4 linked regions of the Homo sapiens genome follow. The protein of the gene in region 2 interacts with the protein of the main gene of each other region in a pairwise test. Each region holds a gene or a part of one and is shown on either strand. Other genes may lie near its edges.

What was found. Proteins that work in one complex are often made in the same cells at the same time.
Region 1: the proteins of CTNNA3 (region 2) and CKMT1A interact in binary tests that used the Homo sapiens proteins (3 or more experiments, as listed by UniProt).
Region 3: the proteins of CTNNA3 (region 2) and RPS6KA5 interact in binary tests that used the Homo sapiens proteins (3 or more experiments, as listed by UniProt).
Region 4: the proteins of CTNNA3 (region 2) and VIP interact in binary tests that used the Homo sapiens proteins (3 or more experiments, as listed by UniProt).

The regions. Positions count from the first base shown.
Region 1 is NC_000015.10:43,692,617-43,696,658, forward strand, and holds the start of CKMT1A (creatine kinase U-type, mitochondrial isoform 1 precursor), read left to right. Parts: upstream 1-1,242; 5' UTR 1,243-1,434; coding exon 1,435-1,583; intron 1,584-1,910; exon of another isoform or gene 1,911-2,094; coding exon of another isoform or gene 2,095-2,187; coding exon 2,188-2,386; intron 2,387-2,589; coding exon 2,590-2,685; intron 2,686-3,071; coding exon 3,072-3,293; exon of another isoform or gene 3,294-3,294; intron 3,295-3,422; coding exon 3,423-3,508; exon of another isoform or gene 3,509-3,512; intron 3,513-3,623; coding exon 3,624-3,747; intron 3,748-4,042. UniProt on the Homo sapiens protein: Reversibly catalyzes the transfer of phosphate between ATP and various phosphogens (e.g. creatine phosphate).
Region 2 is NC_000010.11:67,217,196-67,220,695, reverse strand, and holds part of CTNNA3 (catenin alpha-3), read left to right. Parts: intron 1-825; coding exon 826-1,089; intron 1,090-3,500. UniProt on the Homo sapiens protein: May be involved in formation of stretch-resistant cell-cell adhesion complexes.
Region 3 is NC_000014.9:90,872,142-90,875,641, reverse strand, and holds part of RPS6KA5 (ribosomal protein S6 kinase alpha-5), read left to right. Parts: intron 1-281; coding exon 282-441; intron 442-1,846; coding exon 1,847-2,010; intron 2,011-3,319; coding exon 3,320-3,500. UniProt on the Homo sapiens protein: Serine/threonine-protein kinase that is required for the mitogen or stress-induced phosphorylation of the transcription factors CREB1 and ATF1 and for the regulation of the transcription factors RELA, STAT3 and ETV1/ER81, and that contributes to gene activation by histone phosphorylation and functions in the regulation of inflammatory genes.
Region 4 is NC_000006.12:152,749,479-152,753,596, forward strand, and holds the start of VIP (VIP peptides isoform 1 preproprotein), read left to right. Parts: upstream 1-1,318; 5' UTR 1,319-1,481; intron 1,482-2,689; 5' UTR 2,690-2,699; coding exon 2,700-2,806; intron 2,807-4,118. UniProt on the Homo sapiens protein: PHM-27 and PHV-42 are two bioactive forms from proteolysis of the same precursor protein, that cause vasodilation. PHM-27 is a potent agonist of the calcitonin receptor CALCR, with similar efficacy as calcitonin.

The DNA.
Region 1 (4,042 bases), on a different chromosome or scaffold from region 2:
CCTTGCTACCAGGACAAAGGTCAAATCATACCTGGAGCTGGGAAACAAAGCCCTCTCAAATCTGAATATGTGTTTCACGAGGAGAGAGAGAGCAGCAGAGGGGACCACGAGGAAGGCAGAGATTCCCTGACCACCTCATGCCTTTGTACACCACTCGCCTTTACTCTCTGGATTAAACAGCATTAGGGAGACAAGAGAGGAAACACATGTGGTGTCTGGAGACCTGTGCCTGCCTGTTCCAGTCCCACACCCAGTCATCTCACCACACCCTTCACCTCACTTTACCTTCTCCTCCAGCACAGGAACTAGGAACTACGGAGAGAGAAGCCAAGGGAGAGGAGGAGGAGGAAACTAACGATTCCCTGCCCACCCCCACACCCAGCACCACCAACAGGTGGGCAAGCTTGCCGAGAAAACGCAGAGGGCATCCTGTGAGCAGCAAACACATCTGAGCCTGGAAAAGACGCAGAGAAGTAAAAGATCAAAGGTGAGGTAGGGGACGTGGAGGAAAGTGGGAGAGACAAAAGGAAAACAAAAAGTGGGGGATCATGAGAAGCAGAGGCAGGAAATAACAGGGCTTCAGACTTGGGTGCAGAATGGAGGTGGAGGACACAGCACAGATGGCATAAGAATTAATATTTCCTTGGTTCCTCCCAGGGAGTCCTTTCTCAACTTTGTAAGGCGTGCACAGAGGTGGCAAGGAAGCACCTTGCTCCTCTTCCTGGTTCTAAGGAAAAGGTGACCTTGAGCCAGTGGGTGTCTTTCCCAGTGCCTGCCTCTAACCCTGTGCTTTCTCCATATCCTCCTCTGGTATCTGTGTTTATTCCGCGGTTTCCCCGCGGCTGCCCCCGGGAGACCGAAGAGGTGGCTGGGGCAGGCCGAAAGCAGAGGAAAGGTTGGGCAGTGTCACCCTTGCACACCCACAGGGTAGACGGATCGAGTTTCAGCTTAAACCGAGGGGTGTGGGGGAAGGGTGTTGGGTTCAGCTAGTCCACGTGGGTGCTGTCCTCCACTTGGTGCTGAAATCTGGGCGGCCACATCCCCGGGGCGGGAGGGGGCTACATCCCCGGCTTTAGACGCGCGAGTCTCAGGTCCCGCTAATTACCTGGCGGGTGCTGCCCACCCCTGCCCTCGCGCACCTAGCGCGGTGGCAGGCGGGAAGGCGGGGCCTGGGGGAGCCCCACCCCTGGAGACTGCGGCTGGGGCCTCCCTCTCCTCCGCCCGCCCGCCTGCCACTAGCTCATTGCGCCTCTCCTGCAGTCTGATTGGCACCGGCTCCCATTCCGGCTCCAGCCTCCAATCCGACCCCCATTTCGGCTGCAGCCTCGGACCTAGCTCCGGCCCTCGGTCTATCCGGTTGCATCCTCCCTCCCTGTTCCGGATCTTATCTTGCGCCAGCGCCTACTCCAGGATCCCGTAGCCAGACCTCAAGCCATGGCTGGTCCCTTCTCCCGTCTGCTGTCCGCCCGCCCGGGACTCAGGCTCCTGGCTTTGGCCGGAGCGGGGTCTCTAGCCGCTGGGTTTCTGCTCCGACCGGAACCTGTACGAGCTGCCAGTGAACGACGGAGGCTGTATCCCCCGAGGTAACAGTGCCTGAGGCGCGGGAGGAGGCGGGGGCAGGAGGTGATGGGAACGAAGGTGCGGGTAGAAGTGAGAATCCGGGCAACAGAGAAGGGCTATAATCACGAAGGCCCTGGAGCTGGAGGGCTGTGCAGTCTGCAGACCTCAGTGGGGTGGGGGTGGGGGCCAAAACCATAAAGCAAGAACATTCCTGGGGACCTGCCAAGACCAGCTCTGGCCCTACGAGTTCTAGCTGCACTGGCTGCCCAAATCCCTAATTGTAAAGCCAGGAACTATCCTTTTCGCTCCCCTCCATCTCCTTCCCTCATTTCCTCAATTCCTCTCCTTAGGCTTTTCCCCTCCTCCATCCGTAGTGTTGTGTCATGGGAGGAAAGAACTGAGCAGATCTGAAGAAACTGAGCTGGCCAGCCAGAGGCAACTAGAACTATTAGGAAAGCATAGACTCTGAAAGTCCCTAAAGAGATTACCAAGGTTTACCCTCTTTCTAATTCCCCCTCCTCCCGCGGAGCAAAGCCAGACATGGCCAACTGGACAGCTCCCAGGTAACTGCACTAGGTCTAGGCGTCTGTGCCCTCCCTCCATGGTTACTGGGTACCCCCTCCCCAGCGCTGAGTACCCAGACCTCCGAAAGCACAACAACTGCATGGCCAGTCACCTGACCCCAGCAGTCTATGCACGGCTCTGCGACAAGACCACACCCACTGGTTGGACGCTAGATCAGTGTATCCAGACTGGCGTGGACAACCCTGGCCACCCCTTCATCAAGACTGTGGGCATGGTGGCTGGAGATGAGGAGACCTATGAGGTAGGGGGTCCCCAGAGTCTCCCTGATGATCCAATTCATCTTCCCAGTAATCCCAGCTCCTTTCCCCTAAAGACCTCTCACTTTCCCCCAAGACTCTGAGCCCCCCATACTTAAGTTTTCTGAACCAGTGAAATCAATGCACAATTGAAGTCTGGGGAGGGATTCCCTCTCCTTAACCATCTCTCCCTCTTAACTCCCCTTAGGTATTTGCTGACCTGTTTGACCCTGTGATCCAAGAGCGACACAATGGATATGACCCCCGGACAATGAAGCACACCACGGATCTAGATGCCAGTAAAGTGAGTTCAAATATCCCACTTCTGATTTGCATTGCCTGTGTACAACACTCTGTATCTCCAACCCCTTCACCTTATTTCCTGACTCATGGTCATTATACAGCTGAGCTTTTAATCTTAATGTAAGGAAAGAATCATATCTTAAGGGGCAGCATATATGGAGATGGAAGGATAGATAAGAATGACCATGACCCAAGGTGGGTGGTTTGGGGAAAGGTCTGCAATGCCCCCTTCAATTCCAGTGCTTTCCCAAAGGGCCTCTTCTTCCAATGCATGCAGGAAGAATGCACAAAGAGTCCTCTAATGCCTAAGGAAGGTCTCTCCTTTCCCAGGGGCCCTCAGTTCCCACCGTGTTTCTGTGACTTACATTCATTTCCCTTATCTCCCAGATCCGTTCTGGCTACTTTGATGAGAGGTATGTATTGTCCTCTAGAGTCAGAACTGGCCGAAGCATCCGAGGACTCAGTCTGCCTCCAGCTTGCACTCGAGCAGAGCGACGAGAGGTGGAACGTGTTGTGGTGGATGCACTGAGTGGCCTGAAGGGTGACCTGGCTGGACGTTACTATAGGCTCAGTGAGATGACAGAGGCTGAACAGCAGCAGCTTATTGATGTGAGGGCCTTAAGAGGGTGCTGGTTGGTGGGAGCAGATGGGGAAGGCTGGGCCAGATGAGACATGGGCTCTGAAAGGCCCAGGGGCCACCATGAAGATTCTTAACCCAAGTCCCGTTACTCTTCCCAGGACCACTTTCTGTTTGATAAGCCTGTGTCCCCGTTGCTGACTGCAGCAGGAATGGCTCGAGACTGGCCAGATGCTCGTGGAATTTGGTATGAAGCTGCTCATTACCTCTTTTGTCTTCATGCCCTCATAAATGCTTTTTTTCCCTCTATCTCTCCCAATTCTTGCCTTGCCTCTTGATCACTGTCCCTCTCCGGCCCTCAGGCACAACAATGAGAAGAGCTTCCTGATCTGGGTGAATGAGGAGGATCATACACGGGTGATCTCCATGGAGAAGGGTGGTAACATGAAGAGAGTGTTTGAAAGATTCTGCCGAGGCCTCAAAGAGGTTAGAGAAGATTGTGTAGGGGAGCTAGGTGGGAGGACATAAGGAAAACCAAAGAGTAGCATAAATAGATTATGTAATTTATCAACCAACCCAAGACATGTCTGATGGTAAAAAGGACTACCTAGGACTCACTCTAGGACTAAAGGTATAAACCAGCTGGGACCATACTGGGAAAACCAGGACATGTGGTCACACTAAGATTAGGAAAAGAGTGTCAGGAACCTTAGAAAGTGAAGAAGGCAGGTAATGCAAAGAAGGAATAACTGAGATGGCACGTCAGTGCCTGGGATGTGTG
Region 2 (3,500 bases):
GTAATGCTATTCATTTACATTTACTGCAAATTGTCATCTCTGAAGAAATACCTTCTCGGACCATTCAGCCTAAAGCAGCTTTTCCTTTCAAGTCAATCTCTATGACACTTCACTTTTGTGTTTTCTTCATAGCATTTATTGTCACCTGAAATCATCTCGTATATTTGTTCATCTAGTTCATTGTTTGTCTGTAGGCCCTTTCCCCCCAAAAGAAAGAAGAACAAGGTCCTTGTAGGATTTTTTCATATCTGTACACTGGAGTCCAGCACAAGGGCTAGAATATGCTAAGTGCTCAGTAACTAATTGTTGAATAAATATCAAAGAAAGAATGATATAGGATTAATTTATTAGTATTTCTGAAAAAGAAAAATAGCTGAATGGTGGGAGGTTTCATTAGTGTTCTTAACTCAATTGGTCTAATTTTAACGGAGAGGTTAAATGCAATTATCAACATCTATGGAATGAGGTAATCAGCATCCTTGTAATTCAAGCTCCCATGTAATGCACTTAATAATGTGAATGCCAGAGTATTTTAGCTACTTATAAGGATTTGACTGACAAGGACTTGACTGAATAGTAATGGATCTTTACACATCTGCTCTACGGGGACCTTTACTTATTAACTGTGTCATTGTTTATACTGCAGAATTTTTAACAGAAACTGAAAGAATGTAGAAATAATAGATGCCCTTGATTATAACTTATAGCTGACTTCTTCATGTCTATTATCTTTTCATTTATACTTACAAAAAAAGAAGCTTTTTAATTTAAGTCTTTCTCCCATAACCCATTGTAAGATACCACTCTTTTTATTTACCTTCTCAGGACTTAAAATCTCCAAATCAGAGAGATGAAATTGCAGGAGCCCGAGCTTCACTGAAGGAGAACTCTCCCCTCTTGCATTCAATTTGTTCAGCTTGTTTGGAGCATTCTGATGTTGCTTCCCTCAAAGCAAGCAAGGACACAGTTTGTGAAGAAATTCAGAATGCTCTCAATGTAATTTCAAATGCTTCACAAGGGATCCAGAATATGACAACCCCACCAGAACCTCAGGCAGCAACCCTGGGAAGTGCCCTTGATGAGCTGGAGGTAAGTCGGGAGAAAGATAAAGTGTGATCTGATGTCCTAATACAGTAATAATAATAATAAAACAGAAGAAGATCCACATGTTGGCGTTTAGAGCATGAGAAAATAAAAAATCCAGATTAGTCTCTATCACCTTCTTGAGTCTTCCAAAGAATTGATTAACAGGAAAGTACTCTGTTAGTAAACTTCTGACTCCTGTACATCTCTGCCAAGGAATCCAATGAATTTGAAGTGGGATTGTTAATTAGATCGAAATGATGACTTTGTTTTATGTAGATCTACTTATGAAGCATAAGATTTATTCACTCCACAAATACTTATTGGCATTACTGTTCTATGTGCTTGGGACATATCTGATCACTTCCCTTGACAAATTTTTACATTTTAGCAGGTGATTATAGGCAAAAAATAAAACCAATAAACACTGTAGAGAACAAAATTGTATAGATGTTACACTGAGAAGGTGAGATAATGCCAAAGCCTTGAAAGAGTTCAGGAATCGGGCAGATGAAGATCTAGAGCAAAGGCTTGAAGGTATGTGCCCTGTGTTTAAGTGACAACATAAAAACCAGGGTGTCTAGGTGAAGACAGCAAAGTGATGAGTAGCAGGAGCTAAGGTTGGAGAACCAACCATTTAGGAGTGTGTATGCCTTTAAGGACTTTGGCTTTTACTCCAAGTTAAATGGGAATACACTGAAAGGTTTTAAGCAAAGGTGTGACATGCTGCGACTCGTGTCTTAAAAGGACTATGATAGTTGCATAAGGAACATAGACTGAAGGAGAACAATGAGAGGAACTGAAAAACCAGGCTGGAGGCTATTGTAGTAACCCAGGTTCCATTTATACACTTTACATGAACCACCTCATGTTTTAGTTTAGACTAGAGTGGTGTTGGTGGACATCAGTGCTAAATTTTGTAAATAGAGTCAACTGAATTTTGATAGAATGGATGTGGGACATGAATGAAAGGAAGGAGTCATGGCTAGTGTTGTAGGCTGGGTCCTCCAGAATCACACACAGAATGGAGTTTGGAAAACAAGGTGTTACATTTGGGAAGGAAAGAGGGAAGGAGCGGGACTGGATAGAGGAAGAAGTCTACCTGACAGCTAGACCCGCAAAGCCTAGGCCAATCAGCAGGGAGCTCTGGTGAGAGCATTGCCCTCCAGAGTGTACCTTGTCAGGCAGAAATGGCCAGGCCTGTATGTCTCTTTCAGTCACTGGATGCAGGTTACTCTACCCTGGGAAGGGTATGACCTTTAGGGGCCTGAAACACTCTATATACACACTGAATATGTATTACTTTTGCACCATGATAAAGCTGGAAAAAATTATAAGTTGAACCATTGTTAAATCAAGTCAGGGACCATCTGTAGTCTGTATCTGGGGAGTGCCGAGTGTGATACATTGAAATTTGTTAGAGTAGATAGATAGGATCATACGGGTTGAGCATCCCTTATCTGAAATGCTTGGGACCAGAAGTGGTTTGGATTTTGGAATTTTTTGGATTTTGGAATATTTGCATATACCTAATGAATTATCTTGGGAATGGGATTGATGTGTAAACATGAAATTCATTTATATTTCATATATACCCTATACACATAGCCTGAAGGTAATTTTATACAACATTTTAAAAATTTTGTGCATGAAATGATGTTTTGACTGCATTTTAACTGCGACCTGTCACATGAAGTTAGATGCTGAATTTTTCCCTAGTGCCATCACATTGGCATTCAGAAAGTTTTAGATTTTGGAGCATTTTGGATTTCAGATTTTTAGATTAGCAACGCTCAACCTGTATAGCACATTTTTCACAGTACTAAAACACAATTGTGTCAGAGAATGCTCCCATAAGAGCTCCAGTTTATCTCAGACAATGCATTCTGTATTTTAGGATTAAAGAAGAAGACATTTCCAAATTGTTCCTCCTTCTGAGACCTCTTCTCTTTTCTCTTTTTAGTTGAAAGTGACTGCCACAGGCACAAAATGGCAGTGGTTGGAGAGGAGGAGAAAGTGTGCGTGTTATGTGTGTAACTTCAGTGGGAGTGGGCATAGGCAGGGCAACAGTGTTCTCTTAAGAAAGGCAGACTCAGTTGTTCTTCATGAGGCGGGAAGGGGTCCAAAAGATATTTCTCTGAGATCCTAATGAGGATTCTAAACTGTCTGAACAACCTTTGAAATTTAGTTCTAGTCAAAGGTACAGATGCACAAACTAGTAAAAAATGCCTAAGTTTTCTATATTTTTTATATCCAAGTTACAAATAGCTGCTGTGGCTGACTGAACTAGATAAAGCAGAATTTATTGAGCATTTAACCTTTTTTAATGATTTGGTAAATTAAATGGTTGCACTTTTCATTATTTACAGGAAGCTGTATTGGTAAAGGATCCAAAATAACCTTTGCTCTATTTTGCT
Region 3 (3,500 bases), on a different chromosome or scaffold from region 2:
AAGTCTTTGCTATTGTGAATAGTGCCGCAATAAACATACGTGTGCATGTGTCTTTATAGCAGCATGATTTATAATCCTTTGGGTATATACCCAGTGATGGGATGGCTGGGTCAAATGGTATTTCTAGTTCTAGATCCCTGAGGAATCACGTAATCTTTTAAACTCAATCATGCTAGTTGTAGCAATTGGTAAATTACACCAGTTACGTTACTATTAGGATTATTAGAGTGGCTTTAACAGATCTGGGTAGTCATTCTGTTTTGTTACTTTTTCCCTGATAGTACACAATGTTGTCAGGACAGGTTCCCTTCCAATCTCATGACCGAAGTTTGACGTGTACCAGCGCGGTGGAAATCATGAAGAAAATTAAAAAGGGAGATTTCTCCTTTGAAGGAGAAGCCTGGAAGAATGTATCCCAAGAGGCTAAAGATTTGATCCAAGGTAAGAATCTAATGAAATTTTACATTTTATATGATGTGTAGTGATTGAAGTAGAATCATGGCCATTACACATACATTCATATGTTAATTACTCGAGGAATCCATGTGTATTCTAAAAGGCTTCCAGGCTACTCTCTTCAGCCTTGTTTTCTTATCAGAACATTCTCTTTAGTAATGGTATCCACATTTCTAACATGAGCTAGCACTTGACTTCCACTGGCATCTCAGTCAAGCACATCTAAAACAAACCAATACTTTTTGACTGTCCTTCCCCCCAAACACGCTCCTCCTCCTGTCTTTCCTCCTGTCAACAGTGGCACTGCTAAGAAGCCAGATCACCAAAACAGAAACCTAGGCGTCCTCCTGGATACCTGCACCTGCCTGCCTTCTGCAGCCAGTCACAGAGTTCTACACATTCAGCAGCGCTCCTAGCAGTCCGGTCCCTTCCTTCCCATTCACCTGCCGTTGCCTTTGTTCTCATCACCATTTCTCTCCCCAAATCCTGCAGCATCCTTTCACCTTGCCTCACTTCCTCTGACTTAAGCTGTTCATCATCTGTCAATAGAGGGACTTTTCTAGAATCCCTATGTGATTATGCCTCTTTTCTGCCAAAAATCCTTTGGAGACTCTCTGTTTGCTTCAGGTCAGACTCCTTAGCCTAGCATTTAACATTCAAAGCCCCTCATGACCTGGTCCTGTCTGCCTTTGTTTCCTCCTCACCCCAGCTCTGCCGTTGCAGGATATTTGAATTCCTCAGATATGCTGAGCTTTCAGATCCCTCCGTGTCTTTACATGCTCTTAATCCTCTTCCATAGCCACTTCTCCTTATCCTACAGGATTCATCTCCTAGAAGCCTTCCAGGATGCCCTCACTCCCTAGGCTACACTCTCCCTCAGGCCTGCTAACACACTGTGCCTGTGTATCTTGCTATCGCACTTATCCCTGATGTTATAATAGCTGGGGTTTTGCCTGTGTGTCTTCTGATATTAATAGCTCCTCTCTGCATCTCCATCTCCATATCTCTAGTGCCTTACTGCACTCCCTGACCTATAGAAGATGGCCAGTAAATGTTTGGTATATGGATGAAGTAGATCTGTGTGCTTTTTGCTCATTTGGAGCTTACGAAGTCACCAGTGGGAATCTTTGTTTTGGATGTTTATTTTCTCCTGATTGAAAAGCCACTTCGCCTGGAGCTTCCTAGAAATAGGCTACTGTGACTTTATCATTAGACTCCAGCATTCACAAAAGAATTTAAATGAATAGGAAAATCTAATTATCTTTGTAGGAGGTTAAAGCTATATAGAAACCATTATGTCATGTGAACATAGCTGAGATTTATTTCTGAGTTTGTTTTTAAACCATGTTTAAAATGACAAATCATAAAATAAAAATATCTATTCCCAAAGGACTTCTCACAGTAGATCCAAACAAAAGGCTTAAAATGTCTGGCTTGAGGTACAATGAATGGCTACAAGATGGAAGTCAGCTGTCCTCCAATCCTCTGATGACTCCGGATATTCTAGGATCTTCCGGAGCTGCCGTGCATACCTGTGTGAAAGCAACCTTCCACGTAAGGCCCTGTGCTCTGTACATGTTGGGCGGTTTGAGTAGGAATCATAATCAAATGTTCTTACTCTGTAGCCTCAGATACGTTTTCTTTGTTTCACATTTAAAATAATATGTGTCCTTTTACTTTTAGGTATGTTTTTATAAATTGCTTCATGGTTATAAACACTTTATAACAATAAGTGCACAGGGGACCAGAGTCACTGCTAACCCACAAAATACATATTTAATTTTTAGAATGACCTTATGAGATGAGATAATAGAACTTTTTCCTCTCAAATAGACTGACTAAATTTCTTTAAAAACCATAATAAACATTAGGAACTAAGGCATATTTGAAAGTCCATTCATTTTACAACCATTTAGTACATCACACATTCTTAAAACTGGGAGGGATATGAAGTAAGTTCATTGGTATTAAGTATAGATTGTATGTTTGAAAGACTGAGACTATTTGGTAGAAACTGTGGATTATGCACATTTGTGCCAAGCAGATGCAAATATATTAAGATAATTCATGTGAAGTATAGTATAAGATGAGTTAGGGAAACAGAAAGTCACCTTCAAAGGGATTATTTTGAGAAAGGAGAAGGTATAGGGATAGTGCTTCTTCAGCAGCAGAAATGGATTTAAAAAGTAATAAACTAGGAAATGTTGAGATGGTAAAGAGATTAACTGCAAGAATTTCTATCAGATGATCCAAATCTTCTCAGTGACATAGGTTGCAAGGTGACAACTACAAGGTGTAACTGCAGCATTATCCAAGCCTAGGCTAAGGAGAGTGAAGACAGGCTGCAGGAGGAGGAAGCCAGGGCAAAGCTGTAGAGCTGTGCTTCTCCATGCGTGTAAGTGTCCAGTATATATCCAAATGACATTGAATGGGACTGAAGAGCAAAGACTCAGAATGCGTCAAGTCTGCTTGCATTGGGACTTTGTGTTCAGAATTTTAAATCTTAGACACAGAACCAGTAAAAGCAATGGGGATAGTTTAGATTACTGATGGTCTTCAGGAATTTCCAGTCAATTGTTTCGTATTAGGATGTAGTACTAACTTCTTCAAAAGATTTATTAGAATTGTGACTCTCAGACCGCCTAGCTAGTTTGATATAAACAGAGCCCTCAGAATTTTTTTCCCATGAACTTCTCCACCCTGCCAATAGACTTAGATATAAAGGTTTTAAGAGCTTTGTTCCCTTAAAACAACTTGGGGCTGCAGTTGCCAATGGAAAGTTGTCTTCTGCTGTAAGTCATAACTGCTAGGAAAGCTTCAGTACTTTTACCTTCACAGGGGTTCCCTTTTTTTCCCCCGCCAGGCCTTTAACAAATACAAGAGAGAGGGGTTTTGCCTTCAGAATGTTGATAAGGCCCCTTTGGCTAAGAGAAGAAAAATGAAAAAGACTAGCACCAGTACCGAGACGCGCAGCAGTTCCAGTGAGAGTTCCCATTCTTCTTCCTCTCATTCTCACGGTAAAACTACACCCACCAAGACACTGC
Region 4 (4,118 bases), on a different chromosome or scaffold from region 2:
CCACAGGAACTCTGGCTTAAGTCAGAGCTGTCAACTGGGAAACAAATTTCCAGACATTTTGAAACTTAATTCATTTAATTTTTCTGGTAACTGGATTAGAAAATATGATTAAGCATAGCAGGATATTCTTTTACTGGATCAGTCTGACTTTGAACGAAGGAAATAGATACTACAATCTTAAAGTAGAAGAAAGAGGACTGTAAAGCCATTCTGTCTTATGAAACTTAGAAACAAAATGTAAAAATAATACACATGGCAGAAAGCCTTTAAAATAAAAGGAAAAATGGCATTTTCCTCTGTTGTTTAGGAAATTTTTCATGTGGCTGCATTTTTACCTTAAACTCTGATTGAATGTGTGCTAGACTACCTTTAGTTACAAATCCACAAATAGAAGTGAAGTATTTATCAAAGTACTATATAAATGCTTTTCAACTATTTGAAGCCACCTGTCAAGTGATTGAATCAGAAATGTTCAAAACTGGTTTGAGTATGTGTGTGTGTTGGGGATGAGGGTAGAAAACTAATTCTACATTATGCAAAGACTTATAAAAGTGATGAGGAAAATCTTTAAAAAGAAAAGACAATTAAATTCCTTGAGGTATATAGCCTGACAACAATTTATTTTTTGGATCATTTGACACAGTGTATGTAAAAGTGCATTGGGAATTGTGCCATTTTATACAAATATGAAATAGCACTACTTGTACTGCTTTGTACAACAGCGTGCATATCTTACTATCTTAGAGACTTTCTGAAACACTTATCTTGGAATTAGTTTCAACAAAGACGAAATGTAATAATAGGAAGGTGAAAATTATCTCTAGAGCTTTTAAAGTTAGGATAGATTTCAAGAAAGATTAAATCTGGAACTATATGAATAGCATAAAAATTAAAAATATTAAGAGAATTGATACTTTGTAATAAAGTATAATTATACTTTTATAAGCGTAATGAACATAAGTGTTTGTTGCTTTATGCATTTGTTTCTACACATGAAGTCTTTATTTTCTGAAGGAATCCCAATGGCCCTGGCTATAACACTACAATCATTTTCTTATTTTACAATTAATTAAAGGTTAAAACATTTCACATTGAGCTTGCTACTTTGTTTGTTTAAAGAAAAGTAAATTTCCTCTTATCTTACATTTTGAAGTTGCTCACTATAAACTTATATAAATTAGGCATAATGACAATTAAGTAAGAACTTCAAGCCCTATTCATCCCATGGCCGTCATACTGTGACGTCTTTCAGAGCACTTTGTGATTGCTCAGTCCTAAGTATAAGCCCTATAAAATGATGGGCTTTGAAATGCTGGTCAGGGTAGAGTGAGAAGCACCAGCAGGCAGTAACAGCCAACCCTTAGCCATTGCTAAGGGCAGAGAACTGGTGGAGCCTTTCTCTTACTCCCAGGACTTCAGCACCTAAGACAGCTCCAAAACAAACCAGAACAGTCAGCTCCGGGGGAGCACGACTGGGCGAGGTAAGTGAAAACTTTACCTTTCCTCTTCTTTTTCCCTCCTGCCTCTGGAACTTTTCTCACAAAATAATGAATTTTTCTCTCTTGAAAAGAATTTGATAGTGCTTTGCTTTTGCAACAGCAAAAAACAAGTTTCTCAAGTCACCTGGTAAGGATAGAAATACTTCAATTTCTCTCATATGGATAGATTTTCTGAATTCTTTTGTTTGTAAGATGCTTTACCCTGCTTGCTCTTTTACTGAATACTGATTTTTACAAATAATTCATTCAAGTAAAGTTTACTTGTATGTAGATTTTTGACTGAAAATTTCAGTGGGAACATTTGCTTTTGAAATTTTCAACTTATTTTTAAAGTGCTTTTTTTTTCCTATTTCGTATGTTGGTTAAGTGAATCTAAGATGCATTTATTTTTTCCTTAAGTTTAAATTCCATAATTTTTATAGGCAGCAAGAGAAACAGACCTTACTCCTAGGCTTTTAATCTAGAAACTAGAAATGAAATGTGTAAGTTGATTAAATGCAAGAAATGCAAGCTTTGCTTTTAATATATATTTTCCTCTTATGGAAAAATTTATTTCAATGACAACATATGATTCAGTAATATTTTGAGTATTAATATTCACTACTGAGTTAAGAAGTTCAAATCCAGGTGTAAGGAAATAAGTTTCCGTAATATCTACAATTGAAAGAGGAAAAAGTAATGTATATACAAAATCTTTTTTAAAATTATATGTATATATACACATTATATTTATACATTTGCACACACACGAGCAGAATAATTATTAAATAGATGATACTCTAGTCTTATATTAGTCAGATACTGAAATTTTAAAGCAGAAGAAAATCAATGTCTTGAAGCTGTTTCCTTCGTCAAAAAATACACTAAGCTTGAGTGGTACATCCCTGTTATGAAAAGATTGTCCCCAGGGTTATTTCCAGCACTATAGAAGTATGGCATTCAATAGATACTGGGGCCAACCATGTGCCCAGACAGCAGGTGAAAAGGATTCTAATTTTTATTCAAGCACCTGTCACTGAGAGAAATACTGATTTTTGAATGTATCATCTTGCAATTTAACTCTTTCTACAAGATGAAAATTACTCTTTACAAACTCTGCAAGAGCCATTGAAAATTACTGCTAGACAATCAGAATTACCTTGCTGGTGACATCTTTGGCTGGAAGAACTGAGGTGATTCTCTCTCTTTAGAGGCACAGAAATGGACACCAGAAATAAGGCCCAGCTCCTTGTGCTCCTGACTCTTCTCAGTGTGCTCTTCTCACAGACTTCGGCATGGCCTCTTTACAGGGCACCTTCTGCTCTCAGGTAAGTTCCCTTTCAATTCAAACATCTGAACATTCCTTCCTCATCTAAATGGGAATTTCCTATACATTTTGTTGGACAACTAAATAGTATAAATTATGTATTATGTATTTAAATTTTTCCTTGATGTGTTGAGTGAGAGGTGTTTGTCAACATCAGGTCATTCTGAGTCCTGGAATTCACTTTCAGGGCATGAGAGACACTGTCAGTTATTAGTTTTATGGGCTGAGTGGATCACATTCCCAAACATGGTGAAAGGAGGCTTTCACTTTCTTTTTATTCAAAACCATCTTTAGATAAATAATAAGCTTTTATCCATTGTTATCTCAAGTCAGTTCAATTTCTGGTGGAAAAAAGCTGTTTAGTTGCCAACCACATTTGAGTTTATTTTCAAGATTAATCAGTAAATAATCATAAGACTAGTAGTTGATTAGTGAAACATGTATAAAATCATGTTGCACAGAAATCTATCTAGGCAGAGTCAATTTGCCAATATTAAATATGGGGTAATTGATCTATTGAGATACACTCCCCCAATAGGAAAATTTTGATATACTTTGTTTGGACCATAAATCCTTAGTTTTATTGTTCTATATGTTATATTATATATTCCAAATCCATAAAGTATAACACAACTCTTATTTAAAACTTTATTAATGTATGCTAAAGAAGTAAACAATAAATGAAAACTATATTAGCTTGAATTTTCCTTTCAGTTTACGGGCACCACTGTATCTCCAAAGGAAAAATAATAATTGGGTTGGTTTCCTTCTTTGCTTATTAGGTCATTCTTGATTTTTTGCTTAAGGTAGACTTATGCTCAACAGAGAGAATAACCTCTTAGCTATTAGTGTTCTCTGTGAAATCTGTTTAAATACAGCTCCTGCGTTGCTTTGATAACTAAACAAAATGGTTCTATCTGAATAGTTCTACCACAGCAGATGAACAATCACAAGAATGTGGACATTTGTGTTGATTGCTAAGCTTCAGACCCACAGAGGACTAGTTGCTAGTGACTCCCAACTCCCAAATCACTGAAAGATACACAAGTGTCCAGGAGCTGACACGCTCCTTGGATGTTTGCCCTAACAGTGAAAATCTGCACACACAAAATTATAAGAGTTGCCGGTGATTGAAATATGCATGCATCCATAAATATAGTCATATTCCATATATGCATTTGACTATTCTTAGTCTTTCAGTGTAACATTGTACATCCCTTATTAAAGTTGTGTTAATACATAAGATTAGAAAAAAGAAGGCCCCATAAAACTTATTGAATTCAAATTCATCTTCATAGATGAGCTATCCATCT